7 linked regions of the Homo sapiens genome follow. The protein of the gene in region 1 purifies or fractionates together with the protein of each later gene. This does not show direct contact. Each region holds a gene or a part of one and is shown in the gene's direction. Other genes may lie near its edges.

Evidence for each region.
Region 2: the proteins of KLK10 (region 1) and DYSF purify together in Homo sapiens (affinity purification with mass spectrometry; one large-scale study listed by BioGRID and IntAct). This does not show direct contact.
Region 3: the proteins of KLK10 (region 1) and OR6C70 purify together in Homo sapiens (affinity purification with mass spectrometry; 2 studies listed by BioGRID and IntAct, with this or other methods). This does not show direct contact.
Region 4: the proteins of KLK10 (region 1) and ITIH4 purify together in Homo sapiens (affinity purification with mass spectrometry; one large-scale study listed by BioGRID and IntAct). This does not show direct contact.
Region 5: the proteins of KLK10 (region 1) and PADI2 purify together in Homo sapiens (affinity purification with mass spectrometry; one large-scale study listed by BioGRID and IntAct). This does not show direct contact.
Region 6: the proteins of KLK10 (region 1) and APOA4 purify together in Homo sapiens (affinity purification with mass spectrometry; one large-scale study listed by BioGRID and IntAct). This does not show direct contact.
Region 7: the proteins of KLK10 (region 1) and LTF purify together in Homo sapiens (affinity purification with mass spectrometry; one large-scale study listed by BioGRID and IntAct). This does not show direct contact.

What each region holds. Positions count from the first base shown.
Region 1 is NC_000019.10:51,014,475-51,016,709, reverse strand, and holds part of KLK10 (kallikrein-10 preproprotein), read left to right. Parts: intron 1-553; coding exon 554-828; intron 829-1,159; coding exon 1,160-1,293; intron 1,294-1,757; coding exon 1,758-1,910; 3' UTR 1,911-2,235. UniProt on the Homo sapiens protein: Has a tumor-suppressor role for NES1 in breast and prostate cancer.
Region 2 is NC_000002.12:71,683,199-71,686,698, forward strand, and holds part of DYSF (dysferlin), read left to right. Parts: intron 1-3,255; coding exon 3,256-3,294; 3' UTR 3,295-3,500. UniProt on the Homo sapiens protein: Key calcium ion sensor involved in the Ca(2+)-triggered synaptic vesicle-plasma membrane fusion.
Region 3 is NC_000012.12:55,468,700-55,471,590, reverse strand, and holds OR6C70 (olfactory receptor 6C70), read left to right. Parts: upstream 1-1,452; coding exon 1,453-2,391; downstream 2,392-2,891. UniProt on the Homo sapiens protein: Odorant receptor.
Region 4 is NC_000003.12:52,817,173-52,820,672, reverse strand, and holds part of ITIH4 (inter-alpha-trypsin inhibitor heavy chain H4 isoform 1 precursor), read left to right. Parts: coding exon 1-42; intron 43-355; coding exon 356-382; intron 383-682; coding exon 683-733; intron 734-880; coding exon 881-919; intron 920-1,154; coding exon 1,155-1,280; intron 1,281-2,136; coding exon 2,137-2,211; intron 2,212-2,389; coding exon 2,390-2,416; intron 2,417-2,504; coding exon 2,505-2,621; intron 2,622-3,500. UniProt on the Homo sapiens protein: Type II acute-phase protein (APP) involved in inflammatory responses to trauma. May also play a role in liver development or regeneration.
Region 5 is NC_000001.11:17,081,452-17,084,951, reverse strand, and holds part of PADI2 (protein-arginine deiminase type-2), read left to right. Parts: intron 1-249; coding exon 250-353; intron 354-1,114; coding exon 1,115-1,226; intron 1,227-1,237; exon of another isoform or gene 1,238-1,435; coding exon of another isoform or gene 1,436-1,540; intron 1,541-2,299; coding exon 2,300-2,407; intron 2,408-3,500. UniProt on the Homo sapiens protein: Catalyzes the deimination of arginine residues of proteins.
Region 6 is NC_000011.10:116,820,505-116,824,586, reverse strand, and holds APOA4 (apolipoprotein A-IV precursor), read left to right. Parts: upstream 1-1,282; 5' UTR 1,283-1,395; coding exon 1,396-1,444; intron 1,445-1,801; coding exon 1,802-1,928; intron 1,929-2,705; coding exon 2,706-3,720; 3' UTR 3,721-3,887; downstream 3,888-4,082. UniProt on the Homo sapiens protein: May have a role in chylomicrons and VLDL secretion and catabolism. Required for efficient activation of lipoprotein lipase by ApoC-II; potent activator of LCAT. Apoa-IV is a major component of HDL and chylomicrons.
Region 7 is NC_000003.12:46,454,906-46,458,405, reverse strand, and holds part of LTF (lactotransferrin isoform 1 preproprotein), read left to right. Parts: intron 1-2,007; coding exon 2,008-2,116; intron 2,117-2,427; coding exon 2,428-2,610; intron 2,611-2,963; coding exon 2,964-3,111; intron 3,112-3,500. UniProt on the Homo sapiens protein: Transferrins are iron binding transport proteins which can bind two Fe(3+) ions in association with the binding of an anion, usually bicarbonate. Lactoferricin binds to the bacterial surface and is crucial for the bactericidal functions.

The sequences.
Region 1 (2,235 bases):
TCCCAGCACTTTGGGAGGCCAAGGCGGGTGGATCACCTGAGGTCAGGAGTTCAAGACCAGCCTGGCCAACATGGTGAAACCACTTCTCAACTAAAAATAAAATAAAATAAAAAATAAAAAATTTTAAAAAAATTAAAAAAAAAAAAAGGCTGGGTGTGGTGGTGGGTGCCTGTAATCCCAGCTACTCAGGAAGGAGGCTGAGGCAGGAGAACTGCTTGAACCTGGGAGGTGGAGGTTGCAGTGAGCCGAGATTGCGCCATTGCATTCTAGCCTGGGTGACAAGAGCGAAACTCTGTTTCAACAAAGAAAAGAAAAAGAGAAAAGAAAATGTGGAAGGCTTACCTAGGTGTCCAGGCCCCCAGCCCTCCTCAATTCCTACAGATCCTCAGAGCTCAAACAACTGATTCCTCCTCCCCATGTCCACTGAGGTCCCCTTCTCCCACAAGGCCCTCTTCCCTCAGACTCTTCCTATCTCCAGGCCCTGCGTCACTGCCCACCTGCTTTCCCAGTCCCTATGAAGGGTTTGCCTTCACATGCCTCTTCCTTCCCCCAGGCCACTGTGGGCTCGAGTAGGGGATGACCACCTGCTGCTTCTTCAGGGAGAGCAGCTCCGCCGGACCACTCGCTCTGTTGTCCATCCCAAGTACCACCAGGGCTCAGGCCCCATCCTGCCAAGGCGAACGGATGAGCACGATCTCATGTTGCTGAAGCTGGCCAGGCCCGTAGTGCTGGGGCCCCGCGTCCGGGCCCTGCAGCTTCCCTACCGCTGTGCTCAGCCCGGAGACCAGTGCCAGGTTGCTGGCTGGGGCACCACGGCCGCCCGGAGAGGCAAGAGCTGGGGCTCTGAGGCCGGAACCTCAGGAGGAGGGGGCTGAGGGCCTGAACCCCTGGGTCTGAGGAAGGATGGGCTGGGGACTGGATTCCTGGATCTGAGGGAGGACGGGCTGGGGTCCTAGATGCCTGGGTCTGTGAGTCTGAGGGGAGGAGGGGCTGGGGGCCTGGACTCCTGGGTCTAAGTGGGGAGGGGCTGGGGCCAGGATTCTTGAGTCTGAAGGAGGAGGGGCTGGGGCTTAGGATAGAAACGGTCTTGTATCTGGACTCCTGGCTCCCCAAGGATTGGGGGCTGGACCCAGGGATTACTGGCATATTCTCCCTTCAGTGAAGTACAACAAGGGCCTGACCTGCTCCAGCATCACTATCCTGAGCCCTAAAGAGTGTGAGGTCTTCTACCCTGGCGTGGTCACCAACAACATGATATGTGCTGGACTGGACCGGGGCCAGGACCCTTGCCAGGTAGGGTCTGAACAGGGAGAGTCTCTGACTCCTGGGAGGGAGGACAGGGAGGTTATGGGAAAAGAGCAGACCCTGTGCCCGATCCCCAACTCCATTCCCAAACCCATCCTTGACCCCAACTCTTACCCAGACCTAACCCCCTCCTCATCCCTATCCTCAATCCCATTTCCATCCCAACCCCACCCCATTCCCATCTCCAAGCCCATTTTCATCCCCTCACCTTCCATGAACTACAATCCCAACCCCAGTCTCACTGTGCCTTCATTCTCATCCCCCAGCCCAACCTCCCATAACCTGAAGTCCACCTCCATTCCTACCTTCCAGCTCATACCTAATTCCAACCCCATCCCATCCTCGTCTTTATCCCAACCCAACTCCTTCCTTCCCCACCACTGCCCCAGATCCCAAAGTGACAGCTCTCACGTTGGCACATTTATTTGATCTCTCCTTCCTGCCACCCCCAGAGTGACTCTGGAGGCCCCCTGGTCTGTGACGAGACCCTCCAAGGCATCCTCTCGTGGGGTGTTTACCCCTGTGGCTCTGCCCAGCATCCAGCTGTCTACACCCAGATCTGCAAATACATGTCCTGGATCAATAAAGTCATACGCTCCAACTGATCCAGATGCTACGCTCCAGCTGATCCAGATGTTATGCTCCTGCTGATCCAGATGCCCAGAGGCTCCATCGTCCATCCTCTTCCTCCCCAGTCGGCTGAACTCTCCCCTTGTCTGCACTGTTCAAACCTCTGCCGCCCTCCACACCTCTAAACATCTCCCCTCTCACCTCATTCCCCCACCTATCCCCATTCTCTGCCTGTACTGAAGCTGAAATGCAGGAAGTGGTGGCAAAGGTTTATTCCAGAGAAGCCAGGAAGCCGGTCATCACCCAGCCTCTGAGAGCAGTTACTGGGGTCACCCAACCTGACTTCCTCTGCCACTCCCT
Region 2 (3,500 bases), on another chromosome or scaffold:
ATAGGGAAGCTGTCGGGGAGCGGGAGGCTGGCCCAGGAGCCCTTACTTGGCTCGGTGCCCATTTGGGTTTCCTTTCACTTGGTAAGAAGCCAATTGATGAGCTTGTGGGGCCATACCAGAGGTGGCTGTCGTGCCCTTGCTCTGTGGGGCCCTGCCTGGGGGAGGAAGGTCCCTGCCTGTGCTTCCCCAGCCCGCACAGCTCATCAGGGAACCCGGATCACCAGGGAGCCTCCCCCAGTGTCTCTGATACTTTAGACCTTGAAGGGGTTGCAGCATTCTCAGGCTGACACCTGATTTCTAATGCTCTTTAAAATTTAAAAGAAATCTTTTTAATATGAAAACTCCAACCCTATATAAAAGTGGAGAGAATGGTGTAATCCACCCCTTGAGGACCTTATGTTGGTGGCAAAGACGCAAACACCCAGAGAAGGAAAGGGCCTGGCCGTAGGCTGCACAGTATTCCATGCACACTCCCAATCCAGGGCTCACTGTGATTCCCACTTCAGGCCTCAGTCCTGGTCAGCACCAGGCCACTGGCCCAGAGCATTGATCCCATGGCAGACAGGCTGCTTGGGGAACTGCCCCCAGGTGAGCTCTTTGCTCTGTGAGTCCTCCAGGAGGAGGAAAGGGCAAGAGCCCCTCCATCCCACTGCAGCTGGCTATGCCCATGTCTGCAGAATGCATCTCAGAGAGGAAGAGAGTTATAACCACACAGCTTTCCATGCAGTTCTAACAGCTGAACTGAGAGGAGCTGGGGAAAGGATGTCTGGTTTGGATGTCCGGACCAGCTACCATCTGGGCCATAGTGACTAAGGAGAGTCTAGAACCAGGGTGGTGAAGGGTCTGCCTACAGGCCAGGCCTGCTAAGCTGGCTGTGGTCACCTGAGGCGCAATGGAGAAATGTTTCTGAGGTTCTGAGGTTTGTCCATCAGCAAAATCTGACTGTGGTCCAGGGTAGATCTAGGTTGCAGGGACTCGAGGTGTGTACGATGTGGGAGGCCTCTTTAAGCCAAGGGAGACGAGATTACAAATATAAGCTGAGATACAGGACTGTGGAAGAGTGTGTGCACGTGTGGTGTCCTGCAGCATGAGCTGTTGCTGTGACCTGAGATCCGGGGTCAGGCCCCAGGACTTCTGCCTGGTGTCTCCTGCCCAGGGGGCACCCTTCCCAGCCTGCCTCAAGCTCCTCCTCCCATTCGGAGCCCAGCTGGCCAGTGTTCAGTTAGCCACAGAGACTCTAAGCACGTGTGTGCGTCTGGGAGGTAAGGGCGTGTTTTGGGGATGAGGGAGAAGAGGATGAGGCCTCATGCCACTGGGGAGTGCTCACTTCCCTGGGGAGACATTGAAACCAGAGAGTAAGGAAAAGTACTGTGGATGATCAAATGCTCTTTTGGGAGGCTCAGGCCGTGGGAGTTTAGGAAGAGAAGAGCTGCTGCAGACCCTCGCCCTTGGTGTAGTCGGAGGACTAGCAGCAGTAGCACCAGGGAACTCACTAGAAACTCAGAGTCCCCGGCCGGCCCCGGCCTGCTGAGGGGGAATCTGCATGTAGGCACATGATGGTTGGAGAAACCCTGTTGGATGTGACAGAGCTCTGTCGCTGGAGTCAGGATTATGGACTCTTCCTGTGACCTTGGCAAATCCCTCCTGCTCACATGAGGAAGGGGCTGCACTAGGTTAGCTCTGGCCTTCTGTGGCTGGGACTGTGCTTAGGGGAGCACTGTCATCTTCCCTGGCTGCTGTATATTAAGCCAAGCCTCCTTCTGAAAAGCCAAGGGGAGGGGAAAGGCAGGTCCAAAGTGGCATCACCACCACCCATGACATGCCTAAGCCCAGCCCCTGCCAGCTGCACCCTGCACTGCTAGGCTACTGGGCAGCAGATCTAGGCCTCCAGGGGCCTGGGGAAGGAGGCCCTGCTGCCTGGCTGGGAGAGGAAGGAAAGATTTCCAGTCACTTCCAGCCTGTGGTCCTTCCTCATCGCTGTGGGCAGAAGCAGAGTGGTACTGTGGGGGGCCTGGTCAGAGCTCCTCCCTGTCTCCTGTCCCCCCAGCAGCGGGCCACTCTCCTTTGAGTTCTTCTGGAAGTTGTCCTCTTTAAAATATGGACCCTGCTTCCCCTCTCCCAGGGCTGGTGTGGGGATGTCAGATCCTAGGTAAGGGGTCTAGGGATGAAGGGGGTGGCCTGGGCCTGAGGCTGCAGACTGGCTTTGCTCACAGGTCTTTGCTACAAGCTGAGCACATCCTGCCTCCTTCCACCCAAGTCACTCATTCATTTGGCCAGTACCAGATGATGAGGGCCGGGCCCTGGTGACCCTCACCTGGCTTTCAGGCCATGGGACAGAGGCTGCCTGCCCCAAGCCAGGGCCTAGTGGAGAGGGGCCCAAGGACAGGGCAGCTTCCTCCAGTTGGCCTAATCCCCTACCCTCTTGGAAATTCCCTTGGGAGGGGTATGAGGGGGCAGCCTGTCTGATTCCTCTCAGCTTCCCCCTCAGAGCCAGCCGGGAGCAGGGCCAGCGTGGGGAGGCAGGAGGCGTTTGGCGGGGAAGGAGGGCCGGCTCTGTTTCCAGAGTTGGCTTTCCCCAGCCGGCGCTGGGGAACATACTGTCCCAATTAGGAGCCCTGTATTGTGTTGTATGTGTTTTCATGGTTTTTGGGGGGAGAAGTGGGGAGGGGAGGATACTGTCAATCCTGCAGCAGGCAGGGCTCAATCAAGGGTGCCCTGTCTCTAGTGCTGGGCTGTGCCGTGGGTCATCCACGACAGCCCATCCCCAACTCTCTCTCTGCTTTCTGGACAGGGGTGTGATGACCCGTAAGCCCTGGGCTGCCATGTGGGGGAGGACCCTGGGCCCCACCTTCAGCACCTGTCTGATGGAAGAGGCCAGGTCCAGGGTGCTCAGAGTCCTCTGGGCAGTCAGCTGGAACCTGGAAATGGGCCTGGCTTGATGGGGGAGAAGACAGAGCAATTTGGGCAGCTTTGGCCCCCAGGTGGGAGGGTGCGGGTGGAGTTTCGGAGGGTATGGGTTTGCCTGATGGGCTGGAGCACTAGGCAGGGCGGAGTGTTGAGCCCCACATGGTATGGATGGCAAGTGGTGAGGGCGAGGCGTGGGCAGGTGGTTGAAGAGCCACGAGCGTCCTCTCCCAGCCTCTTGCCTGTTGGCAGCTTAGCCCCATCCTCTGAGCCCCAGGTCTGGGACAGCTGCTCTGGCTGTGCCTGCCCCAGTGGGATCACCATGGGTCCCTGTCTCCTCCCTCCCTCCAGAACTATGCTGCCATGAAGCTGGTGAAGCCCTTCAGCTGAGGACTCTCCTGCCCTGTAGAAGGGGCCGTGGGGTCCCCTCCAGCATGGGACTGGCCTGCCTCCTCCGCCCAGCTCGGCGAGCTCCTCCAGACCTCCTAGGCCTGATTGTCCTGCCAGGGTGGGCAGACAGACAGATGGACCGGCCCACACTCCCAGAGTTGCTAACATGGAGCTCTGAGATCACCCCACTTCCATCATTTCCTTCT
Region 3 (2,891 bases), on another chromosome or scaffold:
TTATTAAACTTTTCTAAAAATTTCAAGATCTTTGACTTTAAACTGTTAACTTAGCCATTTTACACTTTCTTATGTCTTATTTTTTTCGTTTGTTTGTGATACTCAGCTTAACATTTAAAAATTAATTATTAAACAATAAAGAAGCTTCCCAAACTTTAACCCTGAGAGTGGATTGCCTTTTTTCTCAGTAGCCATTGATAAGTTATTTCTCAGATCCTTAGCTGGATTTTAAGTCCACTTTCTAATTCCTAGCAGTCTGTCACCTTTGCTTTACTTCTGTACTATTACTCACTTCACTTTTTTCATTGGCAACCTGATACTCTGGGAAACCTACAATAACAAACTTAAAATACCATCAGAATCCTTTTGTCCCATTCAAATGATTACACCCTTCCTACCCCATTATTTCCCTAAATTAATAGTCGTTGGTTACCTGCATGAATAATTGTTGGGGACTCAGATAGTGTGGCAAGAAAGCACTGATTTTTCACTCACAGTATTACATCTAGAAAGTAGGTTTAGACTGTAGGTACCTGTAACTGTAGCGACTTGGAAGAGATGCAATGTTTTATCTGTTTTCTTTCTTACTCCTATGGTCTTGATTACACAAGACAAAATTTTTAAGTCCTAAATAGACTTTTTTTTTGTAAATGTGGCAATATATGCATAATATTAAGTTTTGAGTTTCCTAGATTCAACTAGTATTTATTTTGTTGTGGTATCAACTCATACTTTTTAGGGGCATTTTTCCGTATCTTCATATGTAGTTCATAGAGAAGTTGAAAAAGGCTGTATAGCAGGGCTTTAAACAAATGTCACTTTAATATAATATAATGTAAAGTTTCAAAATTTGACTGTAGGTCTTTTAATTCTTAACAAAAAAGACAGGGTCTCTCTCTGTCACCCAAGCTGGCATCTCCCTATGTTGCTCACGCTGATCTTCAACTCCTGGCCCCAGGCGATCCCCAGTTTGGCCTCCCAAGTGCTGGGATTACAGGCATGAGTCACTGTGCCTTCCCTTAACTTAGGTCTTAATTCATTACACTGGCATCATTTTCTTTAGATGAAATTAATAATTTTAAAATGAATGAACTATTTTTGAATCCTGAACCAAGATCTTTACCTAATTTATTTACAACTTGACAAACCTGGAATTAGTTACAATTAAGTGGAATCTTGAAGTGGAAGCATGAAAAAAACTAGCTTGAAAATCAACTATTAAGGGCTTTGCAAATCAATTTTCCAAAGTGAGATGATGTTTGTTGTACTTTTAAACCCCTAGTTTACAATTTCTGTTGCATAGTTCTATATCATATCTTCAACATCCATGGAGTACTACCTCTTAAATGTATATGTTTGTAAGTGTGGAAACTTTCCTGTATCTTTTCCTGGACCTAGCTCAACCCTTGCACCTTTTTATTCCTAGAATTTGATTGAAATCACAACAGAGAAATGAAGAATCATACAAGGCAGATAGAATTTATTCTTCTGGGACTGACGGATAATTCTCAGTTACAGATTGTAATTTTCTTATTTCTACTTCTAAATTGTGTGTTGAGCATGATAGGGAACTTCACTATCATTGCCCTCATTCTGCTGGATTCCCAGCTCAAGACTCCAATGTATTTCTTCCTCCGTAATTTCTCTTTTCTGGAAATTTCATTCACAACTGCTTGCATTCCCAGATTCCTAATCACCATTGTTACCAGGGAAAAGACCATTTCCTGTAATGGTTGCATATCTCAGTTGTTTTTTTACATATTCTTGGGGGTTACAGAATTTTTCCTTCTAGCTGCTCTGTCCTATGATCGCTATGTTGCCATCTGCAAACCTTTGCGTTATATGTCCATCATGAGTAACAAAGTTTGCTACCAGCTTGTATTCAGTTCTTGGGTAACTGGATTCCTGATCATTTTCACTCCACTGATTTTAGGTCTTAACTTGGATTTCTGTGCTTCAAATATCATTGATCATTTCATTTGTGACATTTCTCTTATCCTACAACTTTCTTGCTCAGACACACATTTACTGGAACTGATTGCCTTTTTATTAGCTGTGATGACACTTATTGTCACATTGTTTTTAGTAATCCTTTCTTACTCTTACATCATCAAGACAATTCTGAAATTCCCTTCAGCTCAGCAAAAGAAGAAAGCCTTTTCCACCTGCTCTTCTCACATGATTGTTGTCTCCATCACTTATGGTAGTTGTATGTTTATCTACATAAAGCCATCAGCGAATGAAAGAGTTGCTTTAAGCAAAGGAGTAACTGTGCTCAATACTTCAGTTGCCCCGTTGTTAAACCCATTTATTTATACTCTGAGGAATCAGCAAGTTAAACAAGCCTTCAAAGCTGTATTTAGAAAGATATTTTCTGCTTCAGACAAGTAATACAACTTGTTGAAATAATTAACATGAAAACATAAAAGGATCTTTGAACAAAACACTAATTTGACTCTTCTAGTTTAAGAATTGATACCCAATATTCAATTATTTGTATGACTTTAGCTTGTCCAACAATCAGAACGTTTTTCATTCTATCCATTCTGACTTTAATTTTCTCTTTTTCAGTATTCAAACCTTTCTGTATTAGAAAGAAAACAATTGCAAAATTGATTTTCTCTAAAAGCATGTTAGAATAAAATAAATGAGTGGTTTTCAGTGATTATAGAATATAAGTTCTTCAAGAGTTTGATCTAAATAATTTATAAAAATTAAAAAATTATTTAAGAAAATTTGCGGGTACATAGTAGGTGTATAAATTTATGGGGTATATGAGATGTTTTGATACAGGCATTCAATGTGAAACAAATGCATCATGGAGAATGGTGTACCCATCCCCTCAAGTACTTATCCTTTGAGTTACAAGCAATCCTATTACATTTTTAAAG
Region 4 (3,500 bases), on another chromosome or scaffold:
ACCAAGAGCAGTCTCAAGTTGCTGAGAAGCCCATGGAAGGCGGTGGGTGTGGGGTTGAGATCTCAGCCTCCCAGGTAGCAGAGTTTGGACCCAGCGTTCTCCCCGATCTTCCCTGCATCCTGACCAAGACCCCAACCGTGCCCCCAACAGACTCCCCCTGGGAGATTCAGCCTATTCACTGATGAGGAAAGTGAAGCCGGGTCTCCTGTCTCCCCAAATTCATTGCACCTACGATATAGTCCAGGATTGGGTAGCAAGATTAAACACAAGCGCTTCAAATTGATGAAAACCACCCTGACGGTGTCTGTCTGTGTCTCTGTCTGTCTGTCTCTCTCTCTCTCTTTGTTTTATCCAGAAAGTAGAAACAGGAATGTCCACTCAGGTAAGCAGCGAACATCCTCAAAGGCTGTGCTGGGTGGTGGTCTGCTAACACAGGGTCCAGGGCACCAGCCCTGTGAGGTTGCTGGCCAGGGCCCAGGTCCACCCAGGCCTCTCCAGCCCATCCCTGCTGCCAGGAGGCAGTGTAATCTGACCCAGCATGCTGGTGCATTTAGTCGCCTGTGCATTCAAATATTGGCTGTGCCTCAGGCCCTGTCCCCAGCACTAAGAATACAGTCCCCATCCAAGTGGGGCCACAGGAAGGTGGGTGCAAGATGCAAACCCAGGTCCCACTGATTTCCAGGTTCCACTTTCTTCAAATATTATCTCCAGGGAGCAAAAATACCAAAACCAGGTGACAAAGTAGGAGGTGGGGGGAGGGGAGATTGACAGATTGGGCTCAGTCCTGGCTGTGGAGGGTAGTGCCTTGCCCAGCTCCTCTGGCTGGTGACAGCCCTCGGGCCTCAGTTCAGTTGTATCTGATCAGGACTTGACCACACAGAGGCTTCCTTTTCTCCAAGAAGAGGATGGAATAGACAAGGTAGTTTGAGGGTTTCTGCCAGGGGGAGGCATGACATCCCTGGGGGGGAGCTTGAGGGAGGTCCATTATTGTTCATCTCCCAGCTGTTGGGGGAGAGGCTCCCCAAGTTGGCCGGGTGTGGGGAGAGGGGACATAGCTGCCCTCTCCGCACCCACTCCTGGGTGGATCTCAAGCCCTGGCTGTGAAGACCCACACCCCACCTGAGAGAAGACTGCATCTGTCGATTTCTCCAAAGCTGGAGCTGCTGGCTCCCGGATGAATTTCAGACCTGGGGTTCTCAGCTCCAGGCAACTTGGACTCCCAGGACCTCCTGATGTTCCTGACCATGCTGCTTACCACCCCTTCCGCCGTCTGGCCATCTGTAAGCTGCCTTCCGGCCCTGCGAGGGCCTCGGTTTCCCACGGTGGTCCTTGAGCCTGCCCCATAGAGGGGGGTGGGGTAAAGCACGCACCACAGGGCCAGGCCAGGGACGGCTGCTGAGGGCACGATGTGAAGTAATTGTGGGTCAGTTCAACCTGGGATCATTTACTGGGGCTGGGGTGGGAGTGCATTTCCTAAGGAGGCTGTCCTCGCCTTCCCAGCTCTTTGCAGCTGCCCCCTGCCCCATCCTTAGCGTCTCATCTCCTCAGATGCGAGCTCACCCGGGTCCTTTAGCTGCCCCTAGGTTGTCAGACCACAGGCCATGACAGAGCAGCCTCTCCCACACTCCTTGTTCAGAGGGGACCCTAGGCCCTAAGAGGGGCACGGACTGGCCAAGCATGCACATCACAGCGCTCTTTGGAGCAGTCCTTGCCAGCTTCCTCTCTCTGAAGGCCCCTCTCCCCACTACCCAGTGTATGGACATCAGGCCTCCCCTCCCCAAGGCAGGACTTCACCTGTCCTTTACTTTCACTGAGTAGGATCCACTATACTCTAGAGGCTGACTCATGAGGAAACCTTCTAGGAAGGGAGGGCTTCCTCCGTTCAGAAAGCCAACAGAGGTCCCTTGAACTGTTTTCTGATCCCCAAATCTGCACTCGAATGCAGCTGCACAGCCAGGCTGGACCTATCCCTGACAGCATGCTCTTCTGTTTGAAAATCTCCTGTGACAAAGGCCATTCTAGGTGGAGTGTATGTGTGGCAGGATGGGGGGCTGGAGCTTGGTGGCAGCGCTGCTGGTTGCCCGCCTCCTGACTGCCTTCCTGCTCCCTTTCTGTTTCCGGATGTTCCTGCCCTAGTGCCTGCTTCAGCACCACCAGCCACCTCAAATCCTGATCCAGCTGTGTCTCGTGTCATGAATATGAAAATCGAAGGTGCCCCCAAGGCCAGAGGCCCTGTCCTAACAGGGGGATCCTGGGAGGGGAGTGACCTGTCACATGTCTCGATGTTGAAGTAGTGAGGGAACCCAGCCACACCTAGTCACTGCTCCCTCCCTCAACCTCCCACTCCTCAGGAAGGGGCTGCCTAAACCCAGACTTTTTCTTCTTTTAGAAACAACCATGACAACCCAAACCCCAGGTAAGTTCCCAGCCCCCTTGGCCCCTTTCCACATCCTTGCCCCCAGCCTGCCCTTCCTGCTCCAGGAGCCGTGCCCCGGCTGTCCCAGCCCCCATACAGGCTCCCTCTGCCATCCTGCCACTGCCTGGGCAGAGTGTGGAGCGGCTCTGTGTGGACCCCAGACACCGCCAGGGGCCAGTGAACCTGCTCTCAGACCCTGAGCAAGGTGAGAGAGGCACACCCAGAGAGACCCAGACACCACTGGCACACACCCACCACCTGCCTACAGAGACACACACAGCGCGTGCAGGCTGGCCCCACACAGGCCCCTCCCAGATCATAGCATGGTCCTGCCTCCCAGTGCTGGCATGGGCACACACTCACACAGACACCCCGGGGACCTTCCACTGGGCACCTTGTGTGCAGGTGTGGGTGGCCAAGGCACAGATAAGCATGGCAGCCATGTGGAGGTGAGCCTAGAGGAGGAGCCAGGGTGGGGCAAGGGTCAGGGGAGCTGCCTGGGGTCACACAGGGATGGCAGGGCCATGGCGGGTGCACAGAGACCAGCATGAGGATGTTCCAGATGATGGAGGAGTTAGTGCCTGCAGAGTACAGAGCCCCAAAAGATGAGACCTAGAAGGTGTGGATGAGGGGAATGGCAGGAAGAGACAGGGGTGCTGGCTGGGCCCTGCCCCTTCAATCCTGGACCAGACATGGGGACACACTCCACTCAGCAGTGCTCACCCCCGCACCGCCCAGCCCCGCTCAAAGCCAAGGGACATCCATGGCTTTCTCATTCCTCAGATGCATGTGTCACCCACTTCCTCACTCAGGCTAGGAATGTCTTTCCTGAGGGCAGGGAGCACCAATTCTCCATCTTACCCTTGGCCGCGGCATCTAGCTCAGGGCCAGGCGCTCCATGGGGCGTTCTGAAGGCTTATTGACTGGAGACAAGTTAATTCTCAAAGGCCTCAACTGAGGGTGGCCGTCGCCGAGGATTTAGGGGCCCCTCCAAAGCCTTAGACACCAAGGGACAAGTGGAGAGATTGTGGGAGCCAGCCCCCAGTGTGAAGGAGTGCTGAGAAAGGGGCACCCCTCCTGATGA
Region 5 (3,500 bases), on another chromosome or scaffold:
GGGCGGTTAACAGCCCTGTGACTCGGTTTCCCCATCTGAAAAGTGAGGATCATAGCAGTATCTACCTCCTGCGGTGGTCGGAAGGCAGAAAAGAATTGGCACATGTGAAAGTACTTAGCACAGGCTTGGTGCATAGCAAGTCCTGAGGAAATGTATTCACTGTCATCAGTTTCACCCGCTTTGAAAGGCAGGCAAAGAAAGCACCTGACAAAACCTTTTGATCCCCCACGCCTTGTCTCCCACACCCAGGACATTCCCCTGACTCCCATCTTCACGGACACCGTGATATTCCGGATTGCTCCGTGGATCATGACCCCCAACATCCTGCCTCCCGTGTCGGTGTTTGTGTGCTGGTAAGGGGTGACCCCAGCCTGGAGAGGCAGCGTGGCAGAGTGGCCAAGGGCCGAGTCAGATGGACATGAGTCTAGTTCCTGGCCCCGTCACTTACCACTGTGTTACCTTGAGCAACTCTCTTGGCCTCTCTGAAATGCCCACATCGTAGAGTCACTGTGAGAATTAAATGAGATGAAGCAGGCAAAGCATTTATCCAAGGCCCAGCACACAGGGTATGCTCTAAAAATAATAGCTGCCATTCTGTTCTCTTGCTTAACCCTCTACCAGGCAGTTAGCAACCTCCTATGCAGTGGAAATGCAGCTCATCTGACTCATTCATTAAACAGACTTTTATTGACCACCTATTATGAGCTAGGTCCACAACAGCAAGATGAGAACCAAGGGAAAAAGTGCCTGTGATTAGATGGCTAGCAACCCAAAAGGGACCCTTGGGGTCCTCACGTCCATCCCATCTTCATGCCAGGCAGAGCTCTTCTTTGAAAATCTGTGGAGTCAGAGGTGTAAGGCATTGGGACAGGTGGGGGTGAGAGTTCCCCCCCTCATTTTATTTGTTCATGACCTTGACAAACGCCACATGAGTGGGTGGGTTTACTTGGCCTTTGATTCCAGCGGCCTTTATAAAGGTGGCCGTGAGCACAGGTGTAGACTGATCTGCCCGGCACAGCCCAGAGATACCAGCTGCTGTCACCATCTCAGGGAGATGACTCTGGCCCCTCCTCACCCTTTCTCCTGGCCTCTCCTTCTTCCCCCAACTTCTCAGCATGAAGGATAATTACCTGTTCCTGAAAGAGGTGAAGAACCTTGTGGAGAAAACCAACTGTGAGCTGAAGGTCTGCTTCCAGTACCTAAACCGAGGCGATCGCTGGATCCAGGTAAGGAGCCCAGGTCCAGGCTGGGAAGGACATGGCCCCCGGGTCAAGCAAAGAAGAGTTGGCTTCATGTGAACTGCCTGGCACCCAGCAGCTCTGCAGATGGGGATTCTTCTGTCAGCTCATATCTGCACATGTGCACAAAGACATAAACATACAAGTGCACTACAGTGCTGCTTCTTGTAGTAGCAAAAGATTGCAAAGCAACCTAAATGTCCATCTGTGGAGGACTGAGTAACGGCCTTCCCGGAAGTTCTGTGCAACCGCTAAAAAGGATGAAGCCAGTCTCTCAATATGGATACAGGATGTGCTTCAAGTTAAGTTGTTACTCAACGGAAAACATATTCAGGATGCTGCTTGCTATTTGTGTGTTTTGTTTTGTTTGAGACGAGGTCTCGCTCTGTCACCCAGGCTGGAGTGCAGTGGCATGATCTCAGCTCACTGCAACCTCCGCCTTGCGGGCTTAAGCAATCCTCCCACCTCAGCCTCCCAAGTAGCTGGGACTACAGGCATGCACCACCACGCCTGGTTATTGTGTTTTTTAAAATGAGGTCTAGGCCACGCGTGGTGGATAATACCTGTAATCCCAGCACTTTGGGAGGCTGAGGTGGGAGGATTGCCTGAGAACAGGAATTCAAGACATGCTTGGGCAACATAGCAAGACCCTGACTCCACAAAAAAAAATTTAAAAATTAGCCTGGCATGGTAGTGCACACCTGTAGTCGTAGCTACTCAGAGGCTGAGGCAGGAGGACCGCTTGAGCCCAGGAGTTTGAGGCTGCAGTGGGCCATAATCATGGCACTGCACTCCAGCCTGGGCAACAGAGTGAGACCCTGTCTCAAAAAAAAAAAAATGGGGCTGATATCGGTAAGAAACCTGCCTGTGATGTGCAGAGACTGCCTATGGACACCTGTGCTGCCATCATCAGTGTGAGGGGAGGAGGATGGGGGACCAGGGAATGGGGAACAAGACAGACGTTCTTCTTCCTTTGTGCTCTTGTGTTTCTCGAGTTTTCTGCCCATGTGCACAAATTGTCCCCTGGATTCGTCTAACAGTTCTCCTTGGTGTCCCTGCAGGATGAAATTGAGTTTGGCTACATCGAGGCCCCCCATAAAGGCTTCCCCGTGGTGCTGGACTCTCCCCGAGATGGAAACCTAAAGGACTTCCCTGTGAAGGAGCTCCTGGTAAGATGCTGAGGGCCACTTGCGGGTGGAGCATGATCCTGGAGATTCTCATAAGACAGAGTGGTCAGGAGACCCTGGGCCGCCTTGACACATTCATCTGCTGCCCAGAGCCTCTGTTTCTCCTCTGCAAAATGAGTCCACTTGGGATAGCTGCCTCTGAGGTCCTTTCCTGCTCTGATAACTGATGTTTTTCCAAAACATAGAGAGTTTTCTAGTGGGAAATGGGAACTAAGGGAAATAGAGTTAAGACCTAGTTCCAGAGGCCCTGGCCCCTGCTGCTGCCCTTCCCCTCCAAATTGCAGCAAAATGAGTTAAGTTTCAAAGAGGAAAAAAACATAGTTATGCAATTGTCAAAAGTCATGGTTCCAACTTCCAAGTTCATCAGCACTTTGAGGCTATGGTTTTTGGTGCGTGTGTATGTGTGTGTTTGTTTTTGTTTTCTGAGACAAGAGTCTTGCTCTGTCGCCCAGGCTGAAATGCAGTGGCTCACTGCAACTTCCATCTCCCAGGTTCAAGCAATTCTCCTGCCTCAGCCTCCCAAGTAGCTGGGATTACAGGCATGCACCATCATGCCTGGCTAATTTTTGTATTTGTAGTAGAGATGGGGTTTCACCATGTTGGCCAGGCTGGTCTCGAACTCCTGACCCCAGATGATCCACTTACCTTGGCCTCCCAAAGTGCTGGGATTACAGGTGTGAGCCACTGTACTCAGCCATGTTTTTTGTTTCTTTGTTTGTTTGTTTGTTTGTTTTTAAGTCATCTGACTCCTCCCATTCTGGAAGCCATTCTCAGTCCCCTTTTAGGCCCTTGACAACCTAGTGTGTGAAGTTAGAACCGAAACCAATCTTTCTTTTGTCTGCACTCTTCTGCCCTGAACAGGCTGGGGGAGGTTTGAACAGGGCATGAAACAAGAGACTGGAATAGATCAGGGGACTTTTCCCAAGGTCACATGCAGGACAGCATTCCTGTCAGACGCCAGGGCTGCCCAGAGCTGACCCTGTGCCAGGTTCACACCTGTTCTGCCCCACATTCCTTACCCAGTGCCCTGTTCACAAGGAGATGCTAGAGCCAATGGTGTCAGCACAGAGCTTTG
Region 6 (4,082 bases), on another chromosome or scaffold:
TGGCTCACGCCTATAAGCCCAGCACTTTGGGAGGCCCACATGGGAGGATTGCTTGAGGCCAGGAGTTGGAGACCAGCCTGAGCAACATGGTGAAACCCCGTCTCTGCTGTAAATACACAAATTAGCTGGGCGTGGTGGTGGGTGCCTGTAATCCCAGCTACTCAGGAGGCTGAGGCAGGAGAATCACTTGAACCTGGGGGGCAGAGATTGCAGTGAGCTAAGATCGTGCCACTGCACTCCAGCCTGGGTGACAGAGTAAGACTCCATCTCAAAAAAAAAAAAAATTGCACCTGTACTAAACATATACAGACTTTTTTGGTGATTACCTCCTAAACAATACAGTATAACAACCATTCACACAGCATTTCCGTCGTATTAGGTATTATAAGTAATCTAGAGATTTAAAGTATGTGGGAGGCTGTGCTTAGGTTATATGCAAATACTATGCCATTTTATATCAAGGACTTGAACATCCATGGATTTTGGTATCTGCAGAGGGTCCTGGAATCAATTTCCCATGGAGACTGAGAGATGACCGTACTACCCACTTCGCAAGCAATGTCTTCTTTAATGTACTGAACCATCCCATTGTTCAGAGGAGAAACTGAAGCTCAGGGCTTTGAATAACTAGACCAAGGAGGCACAGCATGGGAGTGGGACATGAAGCACTCTACAATTAACCCTTTCAGGACAAGGCCCTGTCTCCCACACCCATCTGCCCAAAGGCTCTCCAGGGCCCCCTCCTCTTGGGTGTACCTTGACAAGAGACCTAGATTTTAGCTCACTATGCTGTCTGCAGTCCTGGATGGTCCCACTCCAGTGTCTGGTGCTCTGAGATGGAGTCAGCATTAGTGGCGGATGTGGAGACTGGGGGGACCTGTCTTCACTGGGGTAGACAGAGGAGATGTGGACTTTGCCCCCCATGAGCCCGGCACAAACCCAGAGCCGCCAGCAGGGCCTCGAGGCATCAGTCCCGGGCTCATGGGCTCCCTGAGGTGTTTCTCCTACTGTTTTCCGTTCCCCTCCTCCCTTCCATGCTGAGGTTGGTGGGGTGGGGGTGGGGGTGCCCACGCACGGAACAGCCACCACTTCTAACTATCGCCTGAGCCCTGATCTGCTGTCAGCTTCCACGTAGTCTCAGGGTCACAAAAGTCCAAGAGGCCTCTTGGGAATGTGTCACCTTCCAGCGTGGAGTCACACTGAGGAAGGAGGAGGGGAGGGCAGCCAGGGGGGTGGCGATAGGGAGAGAGTTTAAATGTCTGGCTGGCTCTGAGCTTCAGTCAGTTCCCACTGCAGCGCAGGTGAGCTCTCCTGAGGACCTCTCTGTCAGCTCCCCTGATTGTAGGGAGGATCCAGTGTGGCAAGAAACTCCTCCAGCCCAGCAAGCAGCTCAGGATGTTCCTGAAGGCCGTGGTCCTGACCCTGGCCCTGGTGGCTGTCGCCGGTGAGTAGAAGCTGTCTTTGGATGGCACTCCTGGGCTGCTGCTCTGAGTAGTGCAGGATGGAGGCTGAGCCAAAGCAAAAGGACACTTCTGAGTGCCCATCAGCCCCCAGCTGGACATGAGGTCTGCCTGGCTGCCAAGTGGCTCACAGGAGAGCTGGCCCAGTCCCAGTGGTGGGCCCATTGGCATTGGTGCTATACCAGTTTCACATATCCCTGTGGCTTCCAAAAAGCTAAGCTCAGACAGGGAAAATGGCAGGTTGAGGCACCCCCACCATCATCCAGTCTGCAGCTCAGAGCTGGAGCAGAGGGGCCACACAGGAGACGGGGCCTCATGAATTGCTCTCTGTTACCACCCAGGAGCCAGGGCTGAGGTCAGTGCTGACCAGGTGGCCACGGTGATGTGGGACTACTTCAGCCAGCTGAGCAACAATGCCAAGGAGGCCGTGGAACATCTCCAGAAATCTGAACTCACCCAGCAACTCAAGTAAGAGGGACTACAGTGTGCGGTGGTGACGGGGAATTCTTAAAGGCCATGCAATGTACTGGCAAGGGTTGAGCTTAGAGACAGGAGCCCTGAGCTTAGGATACCCACTGCCCTGCCACTAACTGGCCGGGCCTCTGAACCTAGGATCCACATATGTAAACCGGAAGTTTGGACCGAATAATCCCTGCCATGTCCTTTTGCTTTGACGTTCTAGAGTTTGACAAATGGCCACATCCTATCATTCAGGCTCATGGAAGAGAGGGAGGGAGGAAAATGTCACGTGAGCTGATTTCTAATACGTTTCAGAAAGACAGGCCCCAGTGGAATCAAGGGGAGGGAGGTGGGAATATTTGGGAGGCCCCTGGGCACAGGCAAGGAAAGCAGCACCTTGTGCCACTGGAAGACCCCAGCAGAGGTCAAGAAGACAACATTGTGTTACACAATGTGATCCTATGGCCCAGAACACTCCCTCTGGGAAGGACCTCAAAGTCCCACCCTCTGCAGACAAGGAGGGGAAAGCAAACTGCTGGAGGTGACATGGTGGGTAGATTCTGAGACAAACTATGTGGGAGATCCTGAGATAGAAATTCAGCATCGTAACTTAGTCTGTGACACCCATCCTCTCCAATCTGCACCACCATAGGGAGGGTGAACTCGGTACCTCTGAGCACTCACCTGTCCTAGCACGTGTGCATAAGGCGAGTGGTATACAAGCAGACAAAGTCTTGCCGTGTAAATGCCAAATGTAACGTGGCCTCCTTGTGCCCTTCCCCACAGTGCCCTCTTCCAGGACAAACTTGGAGAAGTGAACACTTACGCAGGTGACCTGCAGAAGAAGCTGGTGCCCTTTGCCACCGAGCTGCATGAACGCCTGGCCAAGGACTCGGAGAAACTGAAGGAGGAGATTGGGAAGGAGCTGGAGGAGCTGAGGGCCCGGCTGCTGCCCCATGCCAATGAGGTGAGCCAGAAGATCGGGGACAACCTGCGAGAGCTTCAGCAGCGCCTGGAGCCCTACGCGGACCAGCTGCGCACCCAGGTCAGCACGCAGGCCGAGCAGCTGCGGCGCCAGCTGACCCCCTACGCACAGCGCATGGAGAGAGTGCTGCGGGAGAACGCCGACAGCCTGCAGGCCTCGCTGAGGCCCCACGCCGACGAGCTCAAGGCCAAGATCGACCAGAACGTGGAGGAGCTCAAGGGACGCCTTACGCCCTACGCTGACGAATTCAAAGTCAAGATTGACCAGACCGTGGAGGAGCTGCGCCGCAGCCTGGCTCCCTATGCTCAGGACACGCAGGAGAAGCTCAACCACCAGCTTGAGGGCCTGACCTTCCAGATGAAGAAGAACGCCGAGGAGCTCAAGGCCAGGATCTCGGCCAGTGCCGAGGAGCTGCGGCAGAGGCTGGCGCCCTTGGCCGAGGACGTGCGTGGCAACCTGAGGGGCAACACCGAGGGGCTGCAGAAGTCACTGGCAGAGCTGGGTGGGCACCTGGACCAGCAGGTGGAGGAGTTCCGACGCCGGGTGGAGCCCTACGGGGAAAACTTCAACAAAGCCCTGGTGCAGCAGATGGAACAGCTCAGGCAGAAACTGGGCCCCCATGCGGGGGACGTGGAAGGCCACTTGAGCTTCCTGGAGAAGGACCTGAGGGACAAGGTCAACTCCTTCTTCAGCACCTTCAAGGAGAAAGAGAGCCAGGACAAGACTCTCTCCCTCCCTGAGCTGGAGCAACAGCAGGAACAGCAGCAGGAGCAGCAGCAGGAGCAGGTGCAGATGCTGGCCCCTTTGGAGAGCTGAGCTGCCCCTGGTGCACTGGCCCCACCCTCGTGGACACCTGCCCTGCCCTGCCACCTGTCTGTCTGTCTGTCCCAAAGAAGTTCTGGTATGAACTTGAGGACACATGTCCAGTGGGAGGTGAGACCACCTCTCAATATTCAATAAAGCTGCTGAGAATCTAGCCTCAACTGGTTGCCGGATGAATCCTCCTTGCAGCTGGGGAGGTGGGGAGGTAACCATGACTGGGCAGAGCTTAGCAGCGGCCTGGCAGGAGACACCCAGGATTGGGGAGATGAGACTGCAGGAGAGGTAAGGGCCTGGTGGACTGGAGGCGAGTACATGGGGAGTCCTCTAAGGGGAGGCAGAAAAAGATGTCACACATT
Region 7 (3,500 bases), on another chromosome or scaffold:
TCGGAAAATAAGATCCCTGTTTGAAATCAGTACTACATACCATTCATTCAAATAAAGTTGAGATAGATTAAATGGTTAAAAATAAAACTTGTATTATTGAAAAACTAGGGGGCAGGTTAACTAGCAGAACTGTAGAGGAAATAGAAATCTCTTAAATGATGATCTAAATCACGAAACAAACAGATATTCTAAAATACAGAAAATGTAATTCATAGCCCATAGAAAATATTTAAATAAAAAAATTAGAAAGGACTGGAATGAATGAATATGCGCCAGCTCTGACACATGATTACTATTTACACTCTATAAAAGAATAACTCAAGGCCGGGCGTGGTGGCTCACATCTGTAATCCCAGCACTTTGGGAGGTCAAGGCAGGTGGATCACGAGGTCAGGAGATCAAGACCATCCTGGCTAAGATGGTGAAACCCCATCTCTACTAAACATACAAAAAAAAAAAAATTAGCCAGGCATGGTGGCACACGCCTGTAGTCCCAGCTACTCAGGAGGCTGAGGCAAGAGAATCGCTTTAACCCGGGAGGTGGAGGTTGCAGTGAGCTGAGATGGTACCACTGCACTCCAGCCTGGGTGACTCCGCTCGAAAAAATAAATAAATAAAAGAATAACCCAAATTGGAAAAAATGTAGAATCATAGAAGAAAAATGATATGAACAGAGTTACCAGTAAGAGGGAATTCATAATTAATAAAAAATACTTGTGAGATGTTCCCCTTACTAATCAGACCTGAGCGATTTGTTAGTACTCACATTTTCTATAGTAATAACAGCTAATAGAATGATAGCCTGCCCTGCTGGTGATTCAAGAGTGAAGCTGGTCCTCACGGTCAGCGCCATTCTGAATTGGTATTATAAGTCTTCTGGAAGCAGAATGGCAACGGCAGCCCGGGTCACAGGGGGAAACGTGCTCCTCATCTGGGGGATTCCACCCTCAGCTGCCTACCCAAGGACACAAGTGGTCACAAGGAAAAACACTGAGGACAAAGATATTCATGAAAATACAGTCTTCACAGGAAACAGTTAGAAATAAACTTAAATGCTAAACATTGGGGGAAATTATTCAATACACGATAGAACACCCACATTATGAGAAAACATTATGCTGTCTACAAAATCAGTAAAGGCTCTGCAGAAGTTAGAAAATGTATCCAGTTTTAGAGGAATAAGCAGTCCACAAAATATGATGTATCCCAGGGGTCCCCACCACCTGGCCACGGACTGGTACCGGTTGATGGCCTGTTAGGAACTAGACCTCAGACCAGGAGGTGAGCAGAGGGCCAGTGAGCATGACTGCCTGAGCTCCACCTCCTGTCAGATCAGCGGCGGCATTAGATTCTCATAGGAGTGTGAACCCTAGTGTGAACTGTGCATGCGAGGGATCTAGGTTGCACTCCCTATGAGAATCCAATGCCTGATGATCAGAGGTGGAACGGTTTCATCCCAAAACCATTCCCCATCTGTCTGTGGAAAAATTACATTCCCTGAAACTGGTCCTTGGTGGCAAAAAAGTTGGGGACCACTAAACTATCCCACATTGCAAACCAAAGAAATATGTAATCATGTGGGAAGCAATGTGCTGAAGCGGAGGAACATGGTTTCTTATGAAAATTTTAGGATAGCTTAATAACTATATTTTCTATCCAATAAAACAGAACTTAAAAGAAATGAATATAGAGCAAAAATAGAAAGTATCTAGAACAAACGACTTCAAATATAGATGACTGTGAGGGGTGTGATCGGGAGAGTGACACAGGCAGGCAGAGGAGAAAGAGGGCAGGCGCCAGTCTCAGGACTTAGAGGGCTGGTGCTCACTGTCCCAAAACAGGGGTCCTTGGCTCTCACCATCTCTCATAGGAAGTGAGGGGACAGGATGGAAAGCGGACCCCTTTGACGACCCTTCCAGCCATGGAGACTTTTTGAGGTCCTGAAGTCCCACTTGCTGGGTTTGGGTGAGTTTTCTGCTGAAGCCAGTCTGGCCTCTTTACTTTCAGGAAAACAGGGCCGATGCTGTGACCCTTGATGGTGGTTTCATATACGAGGCAGGCCTGGCCCCCTACAAACTGCGACCTGTAGCGGCGGAAGTCTACGGGACCGAAAGACGTGAGTTCTGCCTGGGGACCCAGAGGCCACGGTGGCCTCAGCCTGTGCCCTGAGCTGTGTGGATTAAGACTGGGGGAACATGTGGAGGTGGAGTCTGGGTCACATCACACATGTAGGGAATGGAGTCGCTGGGCTCTGGGCCAGATGAAGGCCGTTCCTCCTGACGCTGACCCACGAGAGGAGGACACACGTGAGCTGTGAGGAAACTGCAGCACAGCATTCCCCCTTCCCACCGGAGACTTTTCAGGATGGGTTGTTTTTGTCCCTCTTGTCCAGGCTAAGAACTTTCAATTCTGTCTGCCCCTTTGCAGAGCCACGAACTCACTATTATGCCGTGGCTGTGGTGAAGAAGGGCGGCAGCTTTCAGCTGAACGAACTGCAAGGTCTGAAGTCCTGCCACACAGGCCTTCGCAGGACCGCTGGATGGAATGTCCCTATAGGGACACTTCGTCCATTCTTGAATTGGACGGGTCCACCTGAGCCCATTGAGGCAGGTAAGATGGCTGGGGGATAGTGAGTGGCCTCAGGCAGGGGGCTCTATTCCAGTTGTAAGCACAGGCCACACAGATCATGCAGGTGAAAGTGTGGGATGAATCAAGGTGGGGGTGAGGCTGGCCAGCTTGTAACATCCTGCTGGCAGGATCCGTTACCCTAGCAGCCCTTGGGAGGCACAGCTGAGTCTGCTCTCGGCAGAGGTGCATGTCTCGAGCTCCCAGCCCCATGACAGAGTCTCTCCTGCAGGGGTGGAGGAAGGGGCCTTGCCCACGGAGACCTCAGGATGGGAGGTGTAACCTGCTGTGACCAGGGCTGGCTCACACTCTGTGGTCCACTTCTCTGTGTTTAACAGCTGTGGCCAGGTTCTTCTCAGCCAGCTGTGTTCCCGGTGCAGATAAAGGACAGTTCCCCAACCTGTGTCGCCTGTGTGCGGGGACAGGGGAAAACAAATGTGCCTTCTCCTCCCAGGAACCGTACTTCAGCTACTCTGGTGCCTTCAAGTGAGTGACCCTGTCCCCTTCTCGTCAGTGGCCAAGTGTCCCTTGGCCTCAGGCCGGGAGGCCTTTTCTCTGGCCCCACATAGAGCCCAGCCTGCTCTTGGGGACGAGAGGAGGTCTGTTCTCCTACTGCTGTGTGTCCAAAGAGAGTGCAGGCCTGCCCAGTGTGTGTTCCCCTCCAGCCTTCCGGGCCCAACTGTGCCCCCAACTTCTCACCAGCCCCACGGGCAGTCACTGTGGCTGTGGGCCCTCCTGTTACCTCAGAGAGCCCTGAATCCAACTTGGCTGCCCTGTTGTCCTGGGTTCCTCATACTAATTTCTGCCGCCTGCCTAACCACAGCAGGACTGAAGGCATCTTGTCATGAGATGTCCAGTCCTGGCTCCTGGTTGGG